Linked DNA regions of Homo sapiens. The protein of the gene in region 1 interacts with the protein of each later gene in a pairwise test. Each region holds a gene or a part of one and is shown in the gene's direction. Other genes may lie near its edges. The genes, in order: ZNF821 and PIM2.

Region 1 (7,690 bases):
GCATATAGGTCAATGGAATAGAACTGAGAGTCCAGAAATAAACCCATGCATTTATAACCAATTGATTCTCAACAAGGATACCAAGACAATTCAAAGGGGGAAAGAACAGTCTTTACAACAAATGGTGCTAAGAAAACTGGATAACTGCATGCAAAAGAATAAAATTGCCCCCCACCCCGGCCTCACACCATATGCAAAAACTAACTCAAAATGGAGTGAAGACCTAAATGTAGGAGCTAAAAAACTCCTAAGAGAAAACATAGGTGTAAATTTTCATGACTAGGCGGTGATAGTTTCGTAGACATGGCATCCAAACCACAAGCAATGAAGGAAAAAATAAATTAGACTTCATATAAATCAAAAACTTTGTGCTTCAAAGGACACTATGTGCCGTGACCAAATAAATAAAAATAAATATTATTTTTATTTGGGATACCAAATAAATAAAAATAAATTTTAGGCCAGGCGCAGTGGTTCATGCCTGTAATCCCAGCACTTTGGGAGGCTGAGGCGGGGAGATTGCTTGAGCCTAGGTGTTCCAGACCAGCCTGAGCAACATGGTGAGACCCCGTCTCTACAAAAAATACAAAAATTATTCAGGTGTGGTGGCGTGTGCCTGTAAGGGCATGCCAGTAGTCCCAGCTACTCGGGAGGCTGAGGTGGGATGATCACCTGAGCTCAGGGAGGTCAATGCTGCAGTGAGCTGTGATCATACCACTGTGCTGCACTCCAGCCTGGGCAACAGAGTGAGACCCTGATTCCAAAAAAAAAAAAAAAAAGACAACTCAATTTAAAAATAGGCAAAGGATTTGAATAGACATTCTCCAAATGGTCAATAATAAGCACATGAAAAAATATTCAACATCCTTAGTCATTAGAGAAATGCAAATTAAAATCACAATGAGATATGACTTTATATCCACTAGGGTGGCCATTAATGTCAAAGACAAACAATAACAAATGTTGACCAGGTTGTGCAGAAATTGGAAACACCATATGTTGCTGATAGGAATATAAAATGGTGCAGCCACTTAGGAAAACAGTTTAGCACTTCCTCAAAAAGTTGAACACAGAGGGCTGCGCGCGATGGCTCACGCCTGTAATCCCAGCACTTTGGGAGGCCGAGGCGGGCGGATCACGAGGTCAGGAGATCAAGACCATCCTGGCTAACACGGTGAAACCTCGTCTCTACTAAAAATACAAAAAAAATTAGCCGGGCGTGGTGGCGGGCACCTGTAGTCCCAGCTGCTTGGGAGGCTGAGGCAGGAGAATGGCGTGAACTCAGGAGGTGGAGCTTGCAATGAGCCGAGATCGCGCCACTGCACTCCAGCCTGGGCGACAGAGCAAGACTCGGTCTCAAAAAAAAAAAAAAAAAAGGTTGAATATAGAGTTACCATTTGACCAAGCAATTCCACTCTTAGATATATGTATGCACCCATGTCCATACATAATGTAAAGACATATGTTTACACAAAAACTGTACACAAATGTTCATAGTAGCATTATGCATAGTAGCCAAAAAGTAGGCCCAAGCCAAATATCGTTCCACTAATGAATGGATAAATAAAATGTGGCATATCCATACAACAGAATATAATTCAGCCATAAAAAGGAATTAAGTACTGATATATGCTACAACATGAATGAACCTTGAAAACCTATTAAGTGACAAAAGCCAGATTAAGTGACAAAAGCCAGACACGAGAGGTCCCATACTGTATAATCAATCACATTTATATGAAATGTCCAGAATAGGCAAATCCACACAGACAGAAAGTAGATTTGTGGGTGCCAGGAGCTGGAGGAAGGGAGAATGGTGAGTTACTGCTACTGGGTATGGGATTTCTTTTTGGGGTGATGAAAATATTCCGGAATTAGATACTAGTGATGTTGTCAACCCTGTGAATGTACCAAAACCCACTGAATTGTACACTTTAAAAGCATGAGTTTCATGGTATGTGAATTATACCTTAATTTAAAAAAATGTAACATGAGGTTCTTAAAATCCTCCTACCTTTATTGTTGGAATATAGAGCCCTAACAAGGTCATTGTAGAAGCCAACAAATATAAAATGGATTAGGAAGATATTTCAAGTGGAAAGTTAAATAGTTGAAGTGGCAAAATGATGACATAACTGTGAGTAGATTGGGAAAGTAGAAAAAAGTGAAGCTAAAAAAATATATATGGTTAATTAAAAGGTCTTCTAGATGTAGAACAAGTTTAGGTGAAAGCAGAGGAAAAATAAATTAATTCTTCTTTTTTAAAGAGACAAGGGTTTCACTATGTGGCCCAAGCTGGCCTCAAACACTTGGGCTCAAGTCATCATACCATCTCAGCCTCCTGAGTAGCTGGGACTATAGGTGCCAGCCACCATGCCTAACTTAAACTAATTACGTATTTAATAATTTTTTCATTATTTGGTTGTAACCTTGAATCACAACACCTCTGAGAAATTTTTAGAGCACAGGGAAGTCATAAGAATAGCATTATTATCATCTCATTTTATTTGGAAGTCAAGGAGATGGAATAAGCTGCCCAACATTACATAATAATAATGCATCCAAGAAATTTCACTGGAGGCAAACTTTACCTGTTTGCTACTTTTCTGTTGAAAATGTCAACTAAGTCAGCTTTAAAGTGACATAATAAAGCCATACTTGTATCCCTCAGTCCAAACTGATCAAGAATTACTGTTAAATATAAAAGCCAGTGTGTATTCTAGGTTGTATTCTTACACAAAATAGTACAAACACTTGCGGGTTGGATGATAATATTCCATTTTCTGTCTACTTGGAAACTAAGTTTTTAAATGAAATTAAAATGTTTCCTTGACTGAAGTTAAACAACAATAATTGCTATCTAAGTATCCTAATCACAATAAATAAATGAGTGAATGATGAATGAGCTATTTATCACAGAATTGTGAAGGACCAAGATCCCTCAATGTAATCATTCTATTACATTGAACACAAGATGCAGACAATGAGATCATCTCATAAAAGATTTAGGGGAAAGACAATTTGCAAGAATGTTCTATGCAAATACCAGGACTTGTCACTTTATCAGCAAATGACAGCATCCTCGTTAGCCCTGCCTTTGTGCAGCCAGTAATCACGAAAAACATTTGCATGATGCTTTTAGCCATTTGTTTTACTTAACTGGCACAACAACCCTCGGAGAGTAAAGGCCAGGAATTATTGCATCATTATCCATTTGACATCTTAGGAAGCAGAGGCTCAGAACAGGGAAGTGACTTGCCCAAAGTCAACAGGCTGGTGGGTGGCAGAGCTGGGGCTCAAAGCCAGATCTTCTAATACCAGATCTCATCTTCTTTCCTCTGCATTCCCTGCTTCTCCAGGTAAGCGATGCCAGGGCAGGCTCAGGCATTCTAGAAGAGAGGAAGAAAAGAAGGCAACAGGAACTAGGAGAGAGAAGGACGTGGACAGGAGGAGGTGTTTGACTAGAAGTGCGTCCAACCAGGCCGGGCACAGTGGCTTACGCCTGTAATCCCAGCACTTTGAGAGGCCGAGGCGGGAGGATCACCTGAGGTCAGGAGTTCGGGACCAGCCTGGCCAACATGGTGAAACCCCGTCTACTAAAAATACAAAAATTAGCTGGGCGTGGTGGTGCACGCCTGTAGTCCCAGCTACTCGGGAGGCTGAAGCACGAGAATCGCTTGAACCTGGGAGGCGCAGGTTGCAGTGAGCGAAGATCGCGCCATTGCATTGCAGCCTGGGTGACAGAGCGAGACTCTGTCTCAAAAAAAAAAAAAAAAAAAAGGTCCAACGGCTCTCCATTGCCCCCAAACATCCCTCAAGTGACAACAGTGCCACAAGTTCCCCTGCCCCTGGGTCTGCAGCCAATGTTATTTTATCAGTTGAGAATCATGTCAGAAAATTAAATACTCAAAAGAAATCTCAAGATTTCCCAGCTCTGAGGTTCTGACAGCTGAACTTGGCCCCTCCCACCAAGGCCCGTGGTCACATTCAAAGCCTCGGGAGCCGAAGCCACCGCGAAGCGTGGGGGAATGAGGCGAAGAGGGTTTGTGACGGTGGTGGGGATCCGGGCTAAGGAGAGGGGGTGCCTGCGGCGGAGCTGTGGTTGGGGGTTGTGGGTTTTGTGGCTGAACTCGATGGTGGGGTAAGAAACCAGGATCGGGGCTGGGTAGGGTGGCGTTTACACGTCCAGGAAGGTCTGGGGGAGCTGAGCGGCTGAGACAGCCAGAGAAAGACCCGGGAATGGGCGAGGCGGGGGGTTCCGGAGCCCTGGAACGCGGGCGAGCCCCTCTCGGGCGCCCGGGATTGGGCGCTCCCCGGAGCCCCTCCTCTCCAGAGCCCCTCTCCTCAGGCCCCGCCCACAACGCCAGGCGCGCGCCGGGCCGCGGGGAAGGGGACCTGGCCGGCGCGGGGGAGGGGGAGAGGGAGGCTCGTGCACGCGCCTCACTAGCTGCGGGTGCGCGAGCCGCGCGCTCCCGCCGCCCGCGTCGCCATCTTTTTCCCCCTCCGTCTGTCTGTCTGCTGTTGGCTTTGTCCGTCTGCAGCGCCGCCCCTCGGCTCCCCGCCACCGGCTCGGCTCGGCCCGGAGCCCCTTCCGCTCGCCGGGGCCCAGTCCCGGAGCGCCCCGGCCCGGCTGGCTTGGGCTGCGGTCCCGGGTCCATTGTCCGGCGGTCCGTCTGTCCGGAGGCGGGGCCCAGGGACCCAGAGCGCAGCGCAGCGCCGAGGCGCCGGGTAAAAAGACCCCCTGCCCTCCCTCCGGGTCCGGGCTGGGGATGCGGGCTCCTCGCCCCCTCGCGGCCGCCGGCTGTTGGTCCTTTTGTCTGCACTGGGGAGAGGGCCGGGGGCCAGCTCCGGCCTAGGGGGGCAGCCCGGGCTCACCCTCCCCGCTTCCAACCCCAATTCCTCCCCGGCCGCTCCTCCTGCTGCCCCTTGGCGCTCTCGGGCGCGGGGCGCGGGGTGCGGGGCCGGGGGGCTTTTGCGCGGGCCGCGGGCACCCCGCCTCCTCGGGCCCCGGCGGGGACGGCCCCGGCGTCTGACAGCCTTGGGTGGAGCTGGGGGAGGGGAGGATGGGCGTGGGCGTGCAGACCGGGGGGTATCAGTCCCCGCGTCTGGGTCTCGCAGAAAAGCTTCTAAATTTAGATTTCGGAGATTGTGTTGTCTAAGGGTTTGTCTGAGCCGCCTCGGAAGACCTCCGGCTCTTGTCAGGCTCTTGTCTGGTAATTCCTGGGAATTTACCTGGGCTCATGCTTGAAGAAGCAGAGGGACCATCTCGGCTGATTAGACACGCCCCAGACCCAACCCCAGGGGTCAGGTGAACAGCCAGGCGGCTAAGTGACCAGCTTTCTTGTCCTCTCCTTTTTGGCAGATACAGATCACTTGGATTCAGTCGAGTTTGCTTTGCTCCGTGGGAACTGCACCAGAGCTGGAGGTGGGAACGCACTCTCTTTTCATCAAGCTGAGATTTCACTCGTTTTTTTTCTTGCCAAAGTCTGTGGTGTGCCCTAGACGCTGCAACCTAATACCTGTGGGAGAGCAGAGACAGTGTTCAGGGGAGACGTTGCACCTTCCCGAGGACTCTTAACCTTGCTCTGAAGACAGACAGAACTGCTTTCCTTTTAAAATGGAATCCCTTTAGACCTGAATCTCACCGTTTACCTGTCTTCCCAGCCCATGTTCAGGCAGCTATCTATTTACATTTTTGGTTTGGTTTGGTTTCAGGTTTTGGCTTGGAAATTGAGGCAGTGTTAAAAGTAAAACAAAATGAGTGACCTTTAGGGCTGTATGTCTCTGGGTTTTATTAGCTTTAACTGCCTATAAAACAAGTCATCTGGCCTCTGAGATCTTGCTTTGTGGTCAAGAGTGTCCTTTCAGCGCCATTTATTTATTTACTTATTGATTTTCAACAGCCCATGACCCCACAGGCCTGTTTTTGTGGGTGTTTTTGTTATTATTTTCGTTTCGTTGTGTGGGAGGGGACTGTAATTGCTTATTTTTCTCTTGATCACTCAGGTGTGAAGTCCCATTGGGTACCATCTGGTCAGTTCCCCATTTGGCCACTAGGAGGATTATAAGATGCAGCGGGCATTGCTGATTTAAATACGCAGACACTCATCTCTGTCTTTTGACTTGGAGCTTTAATATTGAAATGTTGTCTGGTTCAAATTATTTGGCCTTCCTTCAGAAGGGACTTTATTACCTTTATCTTACAGTTTCAGTTTCTGATCTTGAAGGGAGAAAATATAAAAATTAGTCAAGATTCTGTTTTTTCTTCTATAATAGAGTATATATATATTTAGCCTCAATAGATTATCACATTAGAGGAGTATATTTTATTTTTTTAAATTTTTATTTATCTTTTTTTTTTTTTTTTGAGACGGAGTCTCGTTCTGTCGCCCAGGCTGGAGTGCAGTGGTGCGTTCTTGGCTCACTGCAACCTCCGCCTCCCGGGTTCAAGCAATTCCCTGCCTCAACCTCCTGAGTAGCTGAGATTACAGACATGCATCACCACGCCCAGCTAGTTTTTGTATTTTTAGTACAGACGGGGTTTCACCATGTTGGCCAGGCTGTTCTCAAACTCCCGACCTCAGGTGATCCACCCGCCTCAGCCTCCCAAAGTGCTGGGATTACAGGCGAGAGCCACCGCCCATGGCAGTTTTTTATCTTTTTTTGAGATGGAGTCTCACTCTGTTGCCCAAGCTGCAGTGTAGTGCCTCCATCCCAGCTCACTGCAACCTCCCCTCCCCAGGTTCAAGCGATTCTCATGCCTCAGCTTCCCGAGTAGCTGGAATTTACAGGTGTGCACCACCATGCCCAGCTAATTTTTGTATTTTTATTAGAGGTTTCCCCATATTGGCCAGGCTGGTCTCAAACTCCTGGCCTCAAGTGATCTGCCTGCCTTGGCCTCCCAAAGTGTTGGGATTACAGGCGTGAGCCACGGTGCCTGGCCATATTTTTAAAAATATTAATAGAGCCTGCATTTCATTACCTTTCCACTTGGTGATTCCACACACATATAGGAAATCCAAAGTGTGATATTCATTCACTGCTTCCGTGAATAAAACAACTACTTGATTAGAAAAAAATGACATACACAAAACTTAGAGAACATACACTATCAGCACTCAGTATATTGCCCTCTAAATAGTTTAAATTGATTTTTATTGTATACATTTAGAGTTTTGTTTTGTTTTGTTTTTAATTAAAGGTCTGAAAAAGAACTGTGTTTGATATGCAGATATGCTAGAAGACTGCCTGAAAGCTGCTTCCTTTGCCACTTCCTGTGGAGGCCTGTCTTTGCCATTTGCGGTTTCTTTATTCTTTTGGTAAGGGGAGGCAGGATCTGATTATAGGTTTGAGGTCCTTCTAGCTACATAGAGGAGTTAGTTGGCATAACAGGAGGTGAGTCTTCATTAACTGGAGTACAAAATATAGCTAGCAGTAGTCTCCCATAACTCCTCTTAAGGCAATAAACTATGATTTTATGTTTGCTTATTCAATGTGAGTATAACTCAAGAAGGCAGGAACTGAAAGAAAACTTAAGAGTGTGACCAGATCCATATTCCTGTCTTTGGTAGGAAAGACAATCCCTTTTTATTCTATGTCTTTATTCACTCTTTCTAAGAAAATGACACAGCTATCAATACTAATCCATCTCAGATTCTCTAACAATGCTTAAGGCTGGGGCACTCTTTCT
Region 2 (3,637 bases), on another chromosome or scaffold:
TACTAATTGTTTTCACCTGTTTAACAAATATTTATTCAGCCCTACTCTGTTAGCAGCCACTGTTCTAGTGCTTCATATACGTCCGTGAACAAAACAAACCATTACACAATAAGTGTTTATTGAGTGCTAACTGCTTGTCAGAGCCCATGCTATTAAGTGCTGTCATCTGTTTAACATTTATTGATCACCTGTGTAAGGTACTATTCTAATCTGGGATATGTCAGGGAACAAAACAAAACACATAATGGTGGTGCTGCTTCTGCTGAAAGCCTTCAGTTGATAACCAGATTTTTCTTTGTATTTTTGCTTGTTTGTTTTGAGACAGCTGGAGTGCAGTGGTGTGATCTTCACTGCAACCTCTGCCTTCTTGGCTCAAGCGACCCTCCCACCTGAGCCTCCCAAGTAGCTGGGACTACAGGTGCATGCCACCAAGCCTGGCTAATTTTTGTGTTTGTGCCATTTTGCCCAGGCTGATCTTGAACTCTTGGGCTCAAGCAATCCACCCACATCAGCCTCCCAAAGTGCTGGGATTGCAGGGATGAGCCACTGTGCCTGGCCGAACTTCTTTCGTTTATTCAAATGTTTATTGATCTACGACATGCGAGATTTGTGCAGGCTCTTTGCTGGTTTCACCCTCTCAATCGCTGTGTGAGTTTGTGTCTTTAGGGAAAGTGAGGCCCAGGAAGGGAAGTGAGTTGCTTAGCGACACACTGTCAGGAAAAGGGGCCCTGAGTTGAGCTTAGGTAAAAAGCCTCAGAGCTGTTGCCCTGACATCTGTCTTTTTTCTCTCCCTGCTTCCCACCCCACCTGTGCCCCCAGTCAGACTCAGTCACATGCCCACTCGAAGTCGCACTGCTATGGAAAGTGGGTGCAGGTGGTGGGCACCCTGGCGTGATCCGCCTGCTTGACTGGTTTGAGACACAGGAGGGCTTCATGCTGGTCCTCGAGCGGCCTTTGCCCGCCCAGGATCTCTTTGACTATATCACAGAGAAGGGCCCACTGGGTGAAGGCCCAAGCCGCTGCTTCTTTGGCCAAGTAGTGGCAGCCATCCAGCACTGCCATTCCCGTGGAGTTGTCCATCGTGACATCAAGGATGAGAACATCCTGATAGACCTACGCCGTGGCTGTGCCAAACTCATTGATTTTGGTTCTGGTGCCCTGCTTCATGATGAACCCTACACTGACTTTGATGGTAAGGCTTCTCTAAATCTCCCTGGAGGGATTGTTTTTACTTGATGGCCTTGTGACCTTTGGCCTCCAGTGGTGGGGTGTCCTGTAATCCTTGACCCATACTGCATTATATAAGATGATCGATTGCTAATACTGGGGATTCTCAGCCTTGCCCTCTGATAAAGTCCATCTTTTAATGGTGTGCTAACCTTATTCTGGGCTCCTATTCTGGTGAGGGGATCCTGTTACCATCCTGAGTATTCTTTCTCTGGTAAGGGGATCCTGTTACTTTTCAGTGCTTTTATTCTGTTGAGGGGACTCTGTTATTTTAGCTGCTTTTTATCTAGTGAGGGGACTCTGCTTTTATCTTGAGTGCTCTTAATTGTGGTGAGGCCATCCTTCCTGGAGAGTTTGGGGTTGGAGAAGGGCATCATGAGATTGAGTTGGTCTAACCCCTGGCTTGTGTGCAGGGACAAGGGTGTACAGCCCCCCAGAGTGGATCTCTCGACACCAGTACCATGCACTCCCGGCCACTGTCTGGTCACTGGGCATCCTCCTCTATGACATGGTGTGTGGGGACATTCCCTTTGAGAGGGACCAGGAGATTCTGGAAGCTGAGCTCCACTTCCCAGCCCATGTCTCCCCAGGTGAGGCCTCACTGACCCCAGCCCAGAAGACTCCATCCTTCTCAGGGACCAGTACCCCCTACTGACTGCTAATCTTCCCTCTCTGCTTCTTGGCCTACAGACTGCTGTGCCCTAATCCGCCGGTGCCTGGCCCCCAAACCTTCTTCCCGACCCTCACTGGAAGAGATCCTGCTGGACCCCTGGATGCAAACACCAGCCGAGGATGTACCCCTCAACCCCTCCAAAGGAGGCCCTGCCCCTTTGGCCTGGTCCTTGCTACCCTAAGCCTGGCCTGGCCTGGCCTGGCCCCCAATGGTCAGAAGAGCCATCCCATGGCCATGTCACAGGGATAGATGGACATTTGTTGACTTGGTTTTACAGGTCATTACCAGTCATTAAAGTCCAGTATTACTAAGGTAAGGGATTGAGGATCAGGGGTTAGAAGACATAAACCAAGTCTGCCCAGTTCCCTTCCCAATCCTACAAAGGAGCCTTCCTCCCAGAACCTGTGGTCCCTGATTCTGGAGGGGGAACTTCTTGCTTCTCATTTTGCTAAGGAAGTTTATTTTGGTGAAGTTGTTCCCATTCTGAGCCCCGGGACTCTTATTCTGATGATGTGTCACCCCACATTGGCACCTCCTACTACCACCACACAAACTTAGTTCATATGCTCTTACTTGGGCAAGGGTGCTTTCCTTCCAATACCCCAGTAGCTTTTATTTTAGTAAAGGGACCCTTTCCCCTAGCCTAGGGTCCCATATTGGGTCAAGCTGCTTACCTGCCTCAGCCCAGGATTCTTTATTCTGGGGGAGGTAATGCCCTGTTGTTACCCCAAGGCTTCTTTTTTTTTTTTTTTTTTTTGGGTGAGGGGACCCTACTCTGTTATCCCAAGTGCTCTTATTCTGGTGAGAAGAACCTTACTTCCATAATTTGGGAAGGAATGGAAGATGGACACCACCGGACACCACCAGACACTAGGATGGGATGGATGGTTTTTTGGGGGATGGGCTAGGGGAAATAAGGCTTGCTGTTTGTTCTCCTGGGGCGCTCCCTCCAACTTTTGCAGATTCTTGCAACCTCCTCCTGAGCCGGGATTGTCCAATTACTAAAATGTAAATAATCACGTATTGTGGGGAGGGGAGTTCCAAGTGTGCCCTCCTCTCTTCTCCTGCCTGGATTATTTAAAAAGCCATGTGTGGAAACCCACTATTTAATAAAAGTAATAGAATCAGAAGCGGCTGGCCATTTGTAGGTGTGAGGCTTTTATGGAGCATCTACTGTGCACTGAGACAGACTGTCCCTCTGCTTTGTCCTCAGGAAGCCACAGTCTTATGTTGCCATCCTAAAGAGCTTTAAGGATTCTTGAAGCTGCACCACACACACACAAAAAAATCTTGATTCCCCTGCCCCTGATCTTATGCAGTGCCCAGTATGTGCAGAAGGGTTCTCTGTTGGAGATACTGTGCATATTGAAGGTGTTTAGGGCACATCCCCAATCAAGATGGCTATCTCAGAAGCAGAAAAACTACCTTCCCTGGCACCCCAGGGGAATGAAGAAGCCCTTTCCCCTGTTGCAGAAGAAAAGCCCTGTCAGGGTACTGGCCAGGGCGGGGCTGGGGTTGGGCGCTGACTGGAATCTGTCCAGGGTGTAGTCACCTGTTTTGCTCTTTATCTTTAGCCTCTTCCCCCATCTTTACCCTTACATACCCATCCCTCTAATTTCTCCTTCAACACTTGACTTACCTGGCCTACCCTATTCCATGTTGGTTTCACTTGTTCCGACCTGAGTTGTTCCCTCTCTTGCCCTGCTTATTTGTCTCGGTTCAGTATAAACTCCGCCT

What was found.
Region 2: the proteins of ZNF821 (region 1) and PIM2 interact in binary tests that used the Homo sapiens proteins (3 or more experiments, as listed by UniProt).

What each region holds. Positions count from the first base shown.
Region 1 is NC_000016.10:71,880,946-71,888,635, reverse strand, and holds the start of ZNF821 (zinc finger protein 821), read left to right. Parts: upstream 1-4,453; 5' UTR 4,454-4,728; intron 4,729-5,094; exon of another isoform or gene 5,095-5,362; coding exon of another isoform or gene 5,363-5,425; intron 5,426-7,201; coding exon of another isoform or gene 7,202-7,319; intron 7,320-7,690. UniProt on the Homo sapiens protein: May be involved in transcriptional regulation.
Region 2 is NC_000023.11:48,912,575-48,916,211, reverse strand, and holds the end of PIM2 (serine/threonine-protein kinase pim-2), read left to right. Parts: intron 1-819; coding exon 820-1,192; intron 1,193-1,640; coding exon 1,641-1,817; intron 1,818-1,917; coding exon 1,918-2,081; 3' UTR 2,082-3,030; downstream 3,031-3,637. UniProt on the Homo sapiens protein: Proto-oncogene with serine/threonine kinase activity involved in cell survival and cell proliferation.